Regions from separate parts of the Homo sapiens genome. Here region 2 is reported to be linked to region 1. The links are microRNA targets in miRTarBase. Many come from high-throughput screens and were not tested one by one. Region 1 holds a microRNA gene; the other region holds the end of a gene's coding sequence.

What was found. Region 1 holds the annotated microRNA hsa-miR-4279 (CUCUCCUCCCGGCUUC, at 4,903-4,918, opposite strand). A microRNA usually pairs through its seed, bases 2 to 8, with sites in the 3' UTR of a target mRNA and lowers its output. Matches are read on the target gene's strand: a 7mer-m8 pairs with bases 2 to 8, a 7mer-A1 pairs with bases 2 to 7 and ends in A, and an 8mer does both.
Region 2: miRTarBase lists VTA1 as a target of hsa-miR-4279. Seed matches in the 3' UTR shown: 7mer-A1 at 3,757-3,763, 7mer-A1 at 3,331-3,337 and 7mer-A1 at 1,368-1,374.

The regions. Positions count from the first base shown.
Region 1 is chr5:31,931,210-31,938,335 of GRCh38, forward strand. MIR4279 (microRNA 4279) reads right to left here and starts at 4,950; the gene lies at 4,893-4,950. All of the region lies in intron 2 of PDZD2 (PDZ domain containing 2), which reads left to right.
Region 2 is chr6:142,218,103-142,225,213 of GRCh38, reverse strand. VTA1 (vesicle trafficking 1) reads right to left here. Exons shown (of 8, transcript NM_016485.5): 8 at 529-6,716. The coding sequence ends at 6,571. Among named protein-coding and RNA genes, the nearest start is that of LINC02919, 38 kb to the left of the region's middle.

The DNA.
Region 1 (7,126 bases):
ATGGGGTTTCACCATGTTGGCCAGGCTGGTTTCGAACGCCTGACATCAAGTGATCCACCTGCCTCAGCCTCCTGAGTAGCTGGGATGACAGGCGTACACCACTATGCCTGGCTAATTTTTGTATTTTTAGTAGAGACGGGGTTTCACCATGTTGGCCAGACTGGTTTCGAACTCCTGACATCAAGTGATCCACCTGCCTTGACCTCCCAAAGTACTGGAATTACAGGCGTGAGGCGCTGTGCCTGGCCGCATAGTAGATTTTTTAGGGCAGGCTGAGTTTGAGGTGGCTGCAGGACACCCAGCTGCAGCTGGGCAGGAGTTGAGGGTCTGAGCTCAGAAGAGAGATGGAGATTGAGGAGCTGGTGGCTCTTACTTGGTTGCTGTAGCTATGGAAGTAGATGGGATAATCCAGGTGACAGGAGGGAGGAACGAAGAAGCTGGTACCCCTCCAAGGCCCACCCTGGCCTGGCAGGAGGAATGAGACTGAAAAGGGGGCCAGAGAGCTGGAGGCAGCTCTGTCCACTAGAGGCTTATGGCTCATGGGACAGATTTGACAGCTAAGAAACAGATCTGTATACAATGAAGGCCCCAGAGCATGATGGTGTCAGTGTATGCTGCCGGCGTTGTGTGAGTTGAGGGTGTGTGAACTCCAGGAGGGCTGGATGGGAGGGGAGGGGTGGGCCACAGCCGCACGGAGCTTTCTCAGGTGTGATTCTGAACCCTTTCCATTAATGGCAGAAGTTGGAAGGGAGCTGCCTCCCCAAATTTGCAGGCCAAGGTCCTCCCCGCTTGCACAATTGGCAGGGTGTTCCCCATCAGTGCTGACATTATCATCTCCCATCAAGGGGCAGGAAAACAAACCTTGTTTGCTTTCATAACTTTCTGTGTGTGATTTTTGACTGGGGGATGGGAAAAGGGGAGAAGGAAATGTTAGTGCTTCCTGTTGTTTTTAAGACCATTTATGAATTGCATTTTATGGTCTTTTCATTTTGTGACATCAAGCATATGAAGCATGATAGCCATAGAACTGGCCAATGAGAAAATGTAAAGAAAACCAAACCGGGTGCAGTGGCTCATGCCTGTAATCCTTGTACTTTAGGAGGCCGAGGCAGGCAGATCACCTGAGGTCAGGAGTTCGAGACCAGCCTGGCCAACATGGTGAAACTCCGTCTCTACTAAAAATACAAAAATTAGCTAGGCGTGGTGGCGTGTGCCTGTAATCCCAGGTACCCGGGAGGCTGAGGCAGGAGAATCGCTGGAACCCAGGAGGCGGAGGCTGCAGTGAGCCAAGATTGCACCACTGCACTCCAGCCTGGGCGACAGAGCAAGACTCTGCCTCAAAAAAAGAAAGAAAGAAAGAAAGAAAGAAAGAAAATCCAGGCTCCATTGACTTCACACACTTAATATAAAAGTTCTCATTTTAATAAATTTAAATGTATAGTTTTGTGGCATTAAGTACATTCACACTGTTGTGTAACCATCACCACTATCCATCTCCAGAAGGCTTTTCCTCTTGCAAAACTGAAACTCTGGATCCATTAAGCAGTAACTTCCCATTCCTCCTCTCCCCAGCCCCTGGCAACCACCATTCTACTTTCTGTCTCTGTGAATTTTACTATTCTGAGTGCCTCATACGATTAAAATCATATAGGGTTTGTCCTTTTATAACTGGCTTATTTCACTTAGCATAGTGTCCTTTTTTTTTTTTTCTTGTTTTTAAGACAGAGTTTCGCTCTTGTTGCCCAGGCTGGAGTGCTATGGTGCAATCTCGGCTCACTGCAACCTCTGCCTCCAGGGTTCAAGTGATTCTCATGCCTCATCCTCCCGAGTAGCTGGGATTACAGATGTGTGCCACCACGCCTGGCCAATTTTTGTATTTTTAGTAGAGACGGGGTTTCACCATGTTGGCCAGGCTGGTCTCGAACTCCTGACCTCAAGTGATCCACCCACCTCGGTCTCCCAAAGTGCTAGGATTACAGGCCATGAGCCACTGCGCCCGGCCAGCATAGTTTCTTTTCAAAACTCATCCAAGTAGTAGCATGTGTCAGAATTTCCTTCCTTTTTACGGCTGAATAGTATTCCATTGTACATATGTATCACATTTTCTGTATCCATTCATCCATCAGTGGATGCTTAGATGGCTTCCACCTTTTGGTTATTGAGTGGACAGTGCTGCTACAAATATCGAGGGTGTGAATATCCATTCGTGTGTCTGCTTTCGGTTCTTGGGTTTATACCTGGGGTGTCCCTTGGCTTTTGCTGTATGATCGACTCCTGCTGGGGATTTCTGGGATTGCCCTCTTTGTTACCTTTCTGTTTTAGCTTCTGGGAGAATCTTAGGTGTGTCCCTAGGCTGGGCTTTGTGACCCGCTGGACAGCCATTACTGAGCCCCTGCCTACAAAGATCCACACCTTGTCCCCTTGGCACCATCTTAGAGTTTGAATCAGGAAGATTTACGTTGTAACCTCAGTACTTCCACTAATGTGCCCTGTGATGTTGGAAAGCTTCCTCATGTTCCTGTGGGCCTCTGTTTCCACACGAACGCAATGAGAAAGTAGAACTCAGTGATCTTCAGGGTCCCTCCCGGGTGATGGACAGTGAGTGCACAGTGGTCTCCTAAGCCCAGTGACCAAGGAACCAAGGTGGACACGAAGAAGGCAGAGCCCCAGATGCCTGTCATGGATAATGCAATTCAGAAACTTGGGTCGGTTAGGTGGCTTGTGTACTTGCTGAATTCTGGTGTATGCTACGTGGCTCGTTTTGTGAGTAAATGTAGCAGTAATTCCCCTTAAAGCAAAACTATATGTTATATATTATCCACCCTTCGTTGAGAGAATGGGACAAAGAGAGGCAGGATAACTGGTTTTACCATAGATTTTTGGCAGATGTCACCAACTAATACTGTCAGGAATATTTTATAGGCAAATTTTACCTCTTGTTAGGACTGCAGTTTGGTCACAGGCCAAGGCAATTTTAATCTTTTTCCCTCACTTCTTTTAAAAGAAAAAAAAGCTAAAGAGCAGACTTCCTTCTCCTTAGCTTGAACTGTGAGCAGGAGTCCACGCTTTCCTGAACTAGGAAGGTGAGTTCCAGGAAGTTACCCACACGATCAACTTTCAGGCCTCTTGAATGCACACAAAAAATGTGGACTTGCCTGGGGCTCCCTGCTGGTGTTTGGAGACTAGGAACTAATCCTCCCATTAGTTCTTTCTCTGCCGCACCAGGGAAACATCATATATACTAGTGACTTTCTGTCTTCTTTATCTCATCAGTAAAAGGCGGATCCTGTTTTTGTTTTCAAGAATGTGTTAGGGTATTGGGATGGCTAGAATCCATTTGGAGCACATGAGAAAATGTATAGCATTTTCTGTTTAGGAGACATTTGAACCATCTAATTAAAAAAAAAAAAAAAAAAAGACTTAAGTCCGGATACTAGACCACCAGTTTTTTAATACATGGAAAATTTAGAAGCAATTTCAAAAATGTCTCACTGTGACTGGAACTAGGTTATGTCAATACAAGGCTCCTAGGGGAAAAATTTATACTGGATAAAACTCTAAAATAAATGAATATACTAAAAAACACCAAAAATCTGGCCAGCAGTGGTGGCTCACACCTGTAATCCCAGAACTTTGGGAGGCCGAGATGGGCAGATCACTTGAGACCAGGAGTTTGAGACCAGCTTGACCAACATGGTGAAACCCCATCTCTACTAAAAATACAAAAAATATCTGGGCATGGTGGCGGGCGCCTGTAATCCCAGCTACTCCAGGAGGTTGAGGCAGGAGAATCTCTTGAACCCGGAAGATGGAGGTTGCAGTGGGCCGAGATTACTCCACTGCACTCCCACCTGGGCAACAGAGCCAGACCCTGTCTCAAAAAAAAAAAAAGAAAGAAAATAGAATGGCTGCAAGAAGTAAACAGAGGATGTTTGCTCCTATTTTGTTCCTTACAAGTATAGCTAACAAAGGACCTTGTGAGTATTGGAATAATAAAATGTCATTCCCATTTAAGTTGCACATGTACATTTTTATACCTGCACCAAAGGTTTTTGGAATCTTTGTCTCTGGCTGTTGGATCATGAAAGACCCCTTTGGCTTCAGCTGTAAAACAAGGCAAATTTTACCCATAATAGAAACTACTATATATGTGTGTTGGTTTAGGGAAGCCTATTTTTTAACATTCTATTTCCTGATAAAACCTTAGAAAAATCATATTGTGTTTAAAAGTTGAGGATTTTTTCAGCAACTCAAGGGCTGACTGATAATTTCTGGTTTTGCTAGTACTTGTCTACAATGGAAGTTGGAAGCTTAGTCGGAGTAGAAAAGTTGTAAATTTGGTGTCATCAAGACAAATGGCTTTTATTTCCCAACAGACTTCTTTATAAAATAATTTAACCCCTTGATTTTTGTTTGCATTTGGATGCAATTTAAAAAAAAATCTGGCCCTTTAATAAGTGCAAGACAGATTAAATGTATTGTGAAATATCAGGTCACTGAGTGGAAAGTTTCTTCACTGATCATCCTAGCTTCACATTTTTAGTTATGTGAAGTACACATTTTGATAGTATTTTGGTTTTCTCCTGCCTGAAATCTTCAGTCCTCCTCCCTGGCAGTCTGTAGAATGAAGCAGCTGTGGTCCGTGGCCAAGTGTGCGTCCTTTGGTGATGGAAGAGCTGATCTGCAGATACCTGCAGGAGGAAGCCATGCATGATGTCTGCTGGGATATGATTTCCCCCCATACTCCTGGAAAATTAGAACCGTTTATAGCAGCCTGGTTCCAATACACTGGCAGGGCAAGGATTGGCTCCTTCTCTTACAAACACAGCGTGGCTGGATGCATTCATAAATGAAAAATGATCTGAGTGCTGTGGGTGGGTGGGGCTCTGGAGCTCAGGAGGTGAAGCCGGGAGGAGAGAGAGAGAATCTGCTCCTCAGCTCCACAGAGCATGGGGAGCTGGCAGGAAGTTGGAGCACGCATGGCGCAGCTTGTATTTTTGTTGATAGTTAATAACCCAGGACTTTAAAGACCTGAATGGAGAAGGGAAGTGAAGCACAACCAACTTTGGAGTCTGTCCCATTCCAGAGGCTGCTGAAGCACAGCAGAGCACGCTCACCTGACCAGCTCATAAAGCAGGTAGGACGGGAGACCTGAGTGGTGAAGAGAATCACATTTTCTCTCTGAACACAACTTACAGGTCTTCCAAGGGTTTATTATTTTTTAATTATATGAGAGATGAGCAGGTAATAATAACATAAAAGACTCAGCTTGAATTGTGCTGATATCTGCCCAAGCAAGAGTTCTCTCAGTTACTAGTGTGATGACCAAATGACAGTTTTATTCTGAGAGTTGCTTTAAAAAAAAAAAAAGAAAAAAAGCATGCAGCATTGAAGCTTTTTTAATTTAAACTCATTTAAAAATTGGCAGATGATAAATGAACTGCAGACACTGTGTTTTAGAACAAATACTTTGAAGGGAGTCAACCAGAAACCGATTTTCAGGCTTGACTGTGGCTCCATTTTCATATTTCAGAGCCAACGAGGTGCTCACTAATTTTTGCTGGCTTTTGTAAGAAAGGAGGTGGATGTATAACAGCTGTGAAATATCCAGAAATTGACTGGGATCCAGAGTGAAGCCCGAATGCACTAATGTTTTCTCCATTAAGGCAGGCTGCCTCTGCTCGGCTTCTAAGTCAAGGGATTGGAAAGCAGTGTGAAAGTGAAGTGTGAATCCTGAATATTTGTCATGGAGTGGGGGGAGTGCAGAGGGTTGGAAACTGTCACAGTGACGTTTCACACTCAGAAGTAGAAAATAAATGGGGAGGACCATGGGTGGCAGCCACATGCAAGGATAATTTTAAAACTGATTTTTGATTCCCATGATTGTAGCCGAGTCTCAGGGTGTTCCTTCCGTTGTCAAGGTTTGGGGCTTGTGATAAGAGAAGTAGAACAGAATAAAGATCATCTCCAGCCCCAGGTTCTGAATCATTTCTAGGCCTTGCTTCTCCTGGGCACTGGGATGATCTGACATGTTTTCCCTCACTAATGAAGTGGCCAGGGTGTTGGGGGATTGGGCTAACATGGAGGAGGTTGGATAGAAATGGTGCGTGTGGTCAGCCTGAGAAGAACGTCAGAGGTAGGTGGAGAATTTTGTTTCGGTAGAATAGCCCAGCCTGAATCCTGGAACTGTTTGCGTTGAGGTTTGGAGAATGCCCCGTAGCCACAGGGGTGTGTCTGAAAAGGCAAAATTGGGAGCTGCTTGGGTTACTGCTTACTGCCTGGCTGGCATCCTCATGCTGTGGTCATCCTCATGCCGTGGTGGCCACGTTTTGTGGCTTTGCATTTTAGTCCTGGAGGGCTGGGGGATGGCTGTGTTTAGTCAAGCAAGCCCACACATCATTGCTAGTCTCTCTTTCCGTGTGATTTCTCAGCATTACACAGCTAGCCTTCTATGGGAGGAGGAACGGCACCTCCTGTGGTCTTTTAGAAAACTTTTTCACCCCATGTTCCTACCGTCGCCACCCCAACTCTTGTCCTTTCTTGCCTACTGTTCACCTGTTGTGTGTGTCCCCTTTGTCTCCCATCCTTCAGACTGATCTGTCCCAGGTGCTATCTGCAGTGACTTAGAAGCTGTGTTGGGGACAGGTTCCTTCCCAGGGTTCCTGCTGGAAGCGGTGTTCAGCAAGCTATGGCCCTTAGGCAAATCCAGACTGCCCTAGCCTGTTTTTGTATGGCCTGGGAGCTAAGAATGTGTTTTATGTTTTGAAGAGTTGAAGAAACAAAGAAGAATATAGGACAGAGATAGTGACCCACAAAGCCTATCCGATCTTTAGAAAAAAACATTTGCTGGTTTGCTGGTTGGTCTGTTGATTTCCGCCCCCATTTAGAGACAGAGTTTCACTCTGTTGGCCAGATTGGTGTCAAACTTTTGACCTCAAGTGATCTGCCCACCTCGGCCTCCCAAAGTGCTAGGATTACAGGTGTGAGCCACTGCTCCCAGCACTCCACCTTGACCTGTTGATTTTTTAATATCATTGGTGAATAATGTGATCAGTGGGTTGATGCAGCAAGTTAAGCCCTCAGCAATTTGAATGGGCTCTTGTTTGGGAAACTGATTTTAGTTTCT
Region 2 (7,111 bases), not on the chromosome of region 1:
AAAGATTAACTATTGAGGAAAAAAAAATCAAATGAGTTCTGACTTTCCCAAAATGTTCAGATGTCATTGGTGGCTTTAATTTTAAACTTCCTCTTGTCTCTTCATCTGGAGCAATAATCTTCCAGTTACAATTTCCTCAGTCACCATAAATATTTTCAATTTTCAATGTGGTCTAAATATTTTCTCCCATTTTTAAGATACACATTGCTACTTCTTCACTCCATTGAGCTTGAATATATTAATCTCTGCCAGAGTATAGACAGACCAAGAACATATAAGCTGCTAACAAGTATCATATATGTCTGTGACTAGGATGTTATTAGTGTATATTCTAAGAATGTCCTGAGCATACCTGACATCATGCTTCATGGTGTCAAAAGATAAAGAACCATGCATTCGAATTAAGAATCGAGACTTGCTGGGTGGCATGGACTGGATTTTTTTGATAAGTAAGATTAATATGTGATTTCAGAACGTTTTGATGCAATTATTATAATCTTAAATCACTATGATATAATAGAACAGAGGTTTCTGAACACAACCTTTATTTGATCATTTTAGTATATATTTTTTTGCCCATTCGTATATTTATTTCACCAGGTCAGAATACTTACAATGCATCAAGCTTCATGTGAATTACCAGGAATTCACAAATGTATAAAATATCAAGGAACTTAGCATCTAATGAGGGAGACACATGTAAATAAATAAAGTTTAACTTACGTGATACATAAAGTTAAGTGATCAATAGTAATTTTGTCAAGTTACTGTTGTTTCTCAGGTATTACTGGTTTTATACAGAAAGCATTGTATACAGAAAATATATAAGCATGGCACAATAGACCGTCCAGTGTCCTTGTCCCGTCTCAGAGGACTCCGAATATCCCCTATATCACAATACAAATAACATAGCCGAGGGGTCGAAAAGACAAAACAATTCCATGGGATGAATTAAAGCAGGCAACTGATAGGGTTGAGAGCATATTCGAGCCTCTGCGTGTCCTCACATGGCCTCTTCTCTGTACACGTGCAGAATGAGCCAGCTCCGGTGGCTCTTCCTCTTCTTGTAATGACAGCAGACCTATAGGATTAGGGCCTCACCTTTATGATCTCATGTAACCTTAATTGCCTCCCTATGGGACCTGCCTCTGAACACAGACACACTGGAGATCAGTGCTTCAAAATATGAATTCTGAAGGGATACAATTTAGTCATAACACATTCCCTAGCCCCCCGCCCCAGCCATAATACATTTACACTCCTGGCCTCCATAGGCCATATGCATAGTAACACTAAATTACTCGAGTTACCTGAATTGCCCACATTTGTTCCTCCATGGTGTTGCTTGTGCTTTTCTCTCTGCTAACTTCTCCTTGCTTCCCTGCCTGCCAAACCTTCAGCTCAACCTTATCTGTGAAGCTTTCCCTGACTTTAGGAAGAATTATTGTAACTCGTATATAATATCCAGTATGGCATTATCATATTAAATATTTGATGGTAGATGCTCAATACATATTAATATTTTTGAACATATGAATGACTTAATATTTGACAAGACTTCCCAATATTGCTGAACTCTGAAGCCAGTTCCCCATTAAGTTATATTCATGGAATACTGCTATGCAATTATGTCTTTCCCTCCAAACTTGATATATGAAGTAAGAGACAGGGGCTTTTGCCTAAGACTTTCAGGGAGAAATTTAATTGAGGAAGTATCTAATAATAAACATTATTGCTAATTTTATATTTTCAGTCCGTATCTCAATCTTATTTCCTGAAGATGAAGAATTTTTAGTTAGGAAAGACAGTGATGTTATTTAAAATAAAAAGGATAAAACAGGCACATCTGGGAAACCCAGACTCCCTAATGATGTGGAACACCTTCTCCAAAATGACCTATAAATCCATTGTAGCATTACTCAAACCCTGCTTAGTGTCCCCTTGGATTGCTGCAGTCCATACAATTTCAGGTCATAGATCAGTGTATATTCCAGATATTGAGGGTGCAATCAGATTTTCAAGTTCATACCCTGTGTTCACTGCCTAGCACTGTCAATTGGAACATATGGCCCAGATAATAGAAAAATTTAGGTGCTAACACCTCACTAATAAAAGGAACTGTCCAATGACCTTGATAATGTGGAACTCATAACATCTCATTGTACTTACAATGTAACAGGTGACTTACTGACATGGATGATACTTCTTATGATCTGAAACAGGCAGTCTGAGCTTAGAAATAAATATTAGCTGTGTTACCTTAGGCAAATTTGTTACTCTGTGGCTCCCTTTCCTCATCTTAAAACAGAAATAAAGCCTACCTCTCAGGACCACTGTGAAGATTAAATGAATTAATATATGCAAAATACTTAGAATAGTATCTGACATTTAGTAAACATTGAAATGTTAGCTATTATGATTATTATTGAAGTGTTGCTTACTTAGAATTTGTCCTACTTAAGTGTACTCCAATGAACAAGCCTGCAGTCTTAGAATTCCACATAGACTTCAAAGATTACAACCAACCAGGGAAGGATACTTCTCATATGAAAACCAAAACCCATCAACTCCATTAGCTATTATTCTTTTAGAGTTGAAAATATTTGTACAATGCTGCTATTAGGGTGTTTCTTTAGAAAAGACAGTATATAATCTTTCAATGCATACATAGAATTCTCAAATTTCTAGAATTACAAGTCATATATAAATTCTAAAAACATCTGAGGATATTAATTTTCAAGACCCATAACTGGAGTCTTTTTCTTGGTGTAGTCCTGATGTCAGTAAACTTCCTAGGCCATGCTAACCATGGGAACTATTCTTGGCTTGCAGCTCCAGTTCAGCAGTGATTTGGTGAGATATCTGTGGCAATCATTGTCAGCAGAACCTTATTTCTTCTTCTCCCTCTGCCGCATTGACAAAACACCGTTATCAGTTTCACTTGGGCTGGTCACAAAAACTTGGAAACATTGTACTTCAGTCTAAGTGAGAGAGGAATTCGGCAACTTTCCCTACTGCAGTACATGATTACTCATTCCTTTCAGGCATTCAGGTGAAAAATCTGGAGTCAACCTTTACTCCTTCTCTTATGTTCGTACCTCACATCCAGTTTACAGAAATCCTGTGGCTCTACCTAAAAAAAAGCCGCCAGAAACCAATCCCGTTTTATTACCTCCAAGGCTACTCCTGGACTAAGACATCATAATATCTCACCTTGATTATTGTAATACTTTTTTTTTTTTTGAGAAGGAGTCTCGCTCTGTCGCCCAGGCTGGAGTGCAGTGGCACGATCTCGGCTCACTGCAACCTCCGCCTCCTGGGTTCAAGCGATTCTCCTGCCTCAGCCTCTTCAGTAGCTGAGATTAGAGGTATGTGCCACCATGCCAGGCTAATATATATATTATATATTTATTAATATATTTATGATTTATATATAAATACATATTTATATATTAATAAATATATACTCCTGACCTCAGATGATCCGCCTGCCTTGGCTCCCAAAGTGCTGGGATTGCAGGTGCGAACCACCGCCCCCGGCCTATTGTTAATACTCTTTTTAACTGGTCTCCCAGCTTCCTCCCTTACTTACCACCCACCTTACGGTCTATTCTCAACATAGGAGCCAATATGATTATTTCAAAAGTTAAGTCACATCAGGCTACGTTTCTTCTGAAAACCTTTCCATATAGCTCCCAGTCAAGTGTCTTACAAAAAAGCTTTATGATCCTAAGCTTTTAGCTCCCTCACCAGCCTTTCTCCTGCTTTTACCCTCTGACCTGATTTCTGTCTACCTGTTGGGAATGCTCTTCCTCCATGTATGTATCTGCATACTAGTTACTCTTTTCCTTCTTTGCTCAAATGTTACCTCAGGGAGGTCTATCCTGGCTATTCTATTGAAATATGCATATGTCTGTACACACCTAAGCATCTCCTATCCTGTCCTCAATGTTTCCTCCATAGCATTTATCACTATTTAATACAGAAGTTCCCATAGTGTGGTCCCCAGAACTTTCTAGCAAGTTCGCAGGTGATGCTGATGCCGGTCGTCCAGAGACACCTTTGAGAACCGGTTTGAGGAGAATCTCTTTTCTCAGACTTGCAATATTTCTGATTTGGGTAGAGCTAAACCACTCGAACTTTAGGGACCACCTTAAGTGTCTCTTAAAACTCAGAAGGCTGGGACCCATCCCTAGAGTTTCTGATTGGGTAGGACAGGTGGGGCCCAAAATTTGTATTTCTAATCACACTCGGAGAGCCACTGATTAAATGTAATGTATATTTTATTATCTATTTCCTCCCTTTTAGAATGTAAACTCTATGAGGGAGGGACTTTTTTTCCTGCTGTTTCTGCTTTCAAAGAACAATACCAGGCATATAGTAGCCATTCAGTAAATATATATGGAAGGAATAAATGAAAATTGCTAATCCTACTGTTACATCAGAACACATCTCCTAATTTTATTTTAAGATTTTATAGGAAAAAATACAAATACAAAGTTAACAAACATTGTATAGTTCAATCCCCTCATGCAAGAAGGCGTTTTTAAGCACTGGGCCACATAGACAACTGGGATTTCCTGATATTAGGGAAATAAATTATTAACAATTTACATTATTAGAGCATTAGTATTGACACTAAACATTTATGAAATGCTACCATGCGCTAAGCACTTCAGGTACTGTATCTCTTTTAATTCTTGTAACTATTGAGATGGCTAGTGGTGTCATTTCCATTTTACAGAGAAGGGCTCTGTCACACCATGCAGCCCACTACCAGCGGACTCCGTAGTTTCTATATTGTCTCCTTCCCTCTATGTGCTCTCCCAATTGGGAACCAGAAGGTAGGGTATAAAATAGGAGGTGATGCGTTTACTTTTCAGTGTCCAGGCATATCAAGGTTTGAATTAAAATTTGCTGAACATCATGTAACACTAAAGGTCATCCTGGCCATCTTTCTATTCGTAATAACATTCTAAAGAGCATTGGATTTCTAGATGCAAATGTGGAACCCTACAAATGTTCATACCTCTTGTAAAAGATAGGAAAATGTTTTTTAGGAGGCATGTTGTTTGGGGACTTTTTTGTGAGGATTTAGAACAGTTTAGTCAGTCTGAATATTTATTCTACCAAACCCTGTACAATAGCATTACATTTATGCAGAAAATAATGGATATAAATGATTATGAGTTAGTGATTTGTTTTTTCCCAAAAGGCCATTAGACTAGGTGTCTTAACTTTTTCTTAGAGGGCCAAATAGTAAATGTTTTTAGACTTGCAAGCCATACAACTCTGCAGTTGTGGAAAGCAACCACAGACAAAACATAAATGAATGAGTGTAGGCTTGTTTCAAAGAAACTTTATTTACGTAACAGGTGGCCAATCCATGGGCCAAAGCTTGCTGACCCTTGTGTTTAAAGATTCCCATCTTAGTAGCATGAATAAAATGGACCAGATAAATTTCAGTTAACTTTGTCAAATTTATCTTAAAAAACAAAAAACAAAAAACCTGTTTCTTCCTATAGAAACACCCATATTCCTATAAATAAAAATGACTTTTAAAAAAGACAATCCTAGCAGGCAAATAAAAACAGACATTTGTCTTTGTAGTAAGTTGAATTAGCTAAACGAATCCTTGTATTTATTTTTCACACAGCACAAATGCAGGTAGTACACAGTAAGTTCATAATTCCCCACAAAACTTATAAACTTAACAAATGGGAATCTAAACATAATATTCTGAATCACCCATAGCTATCCACTGTGTGGAATCCATTCTACAGCAGCAGAGGAGTACCTTAATTTAAAGCACCAAGTTTCCAGGCATTACTACAAATATCTTCTTTTCATTCTCTAATACATGCAGTCAAACTGCCTATGAAGCAAATACCAATTCATCTTACGCTTTAACAGATAAGGTAAAGCACTTGGGAAATCAACATTATTCTTAAGTCTGAAAGTGATTCTACCTCTTTACCTTATTATATTTTCTCCCATGAAATTTTAAACTTTTAATGGAGTTATATTTAATATGAGAATAAATTAAAATTTGAACTTAATGTCTTTTCAGATTCATCCAGCAGTTTAGAATGTTTATATTTGTTTTATGTCTTGAGGGAAACAAAAACGTAATTTCTAATTTAGAATATTCTGGCTATCTTTATTAAAAGTTACATTTATAATTTTATAGCAAAGTAATATCATCTGTTTGTCCAAACATTACAGATTTTAAAAAATTCCCCTAATGTATGTAAATACAAAGCTTATTCCCAGTACACATTTTATAGAGGTGTGTTTTCATTTTTTGAAGCAGGGTTCAATGGACATTTTTAGGGTCTTGCTAACATCAGCCCTATATACTCAGAGACGATTGAATCTAGTAAATGGACAATGAAAACTGGTTGAGGCTGCTGATGAATGCTTCAATAAAAATCTGATACACACAGATTTCATTGTCATATTCAACAAAACCAAGTCTTCCTTAAAACTGTGATCCTGATAGGCTGAAGATAGAGTAATGGACTGTTAGTTCCTCATGCCAAAAATACATGGGTCTGTCATACAAAGGCTTCATTCTCTGCCTGTCGTCAGTAACTTGAGAGCCTTTTGTAGATTCTGGACAGCAGTGCTTACATCTTCATACTGCAAAGCACTGCCAGCATATTTGCAGTACTTCTGAGCTCTAGCAAAGTCTTCTGGGGTTAGACGAACATCCCCTAGAAGAAAAAGAACAATTGGGATATTTATAAGAATATAAAAAGTGTTCTGTAAGGTTGGGCAAATGCTTATGCTTAAGATTAAAAAACATATTTAAGGCTATGTAAAAACAGTAGTTTTAGTCAATCTCACATGAACTTTGATACATTTTCTTCATTCTTTTCAATTGTCTTTTTATTACTAATATAAACCACAGACACGGCAATACATAATAACTTAGATGAATTAAGATTTTCCTTCAAGAAGCAATAAGGACAAACAAGGATAGCAGCTTTGGTGTCTATGCTAAAATCACTTAGCCTCTCTCTTCATGGAACAATACACACAGACTAAACCAATTCAACCCTCATTTGAGCTGGAATGTAAGTATCACCTTCAATAAAAAAAAAGTGAA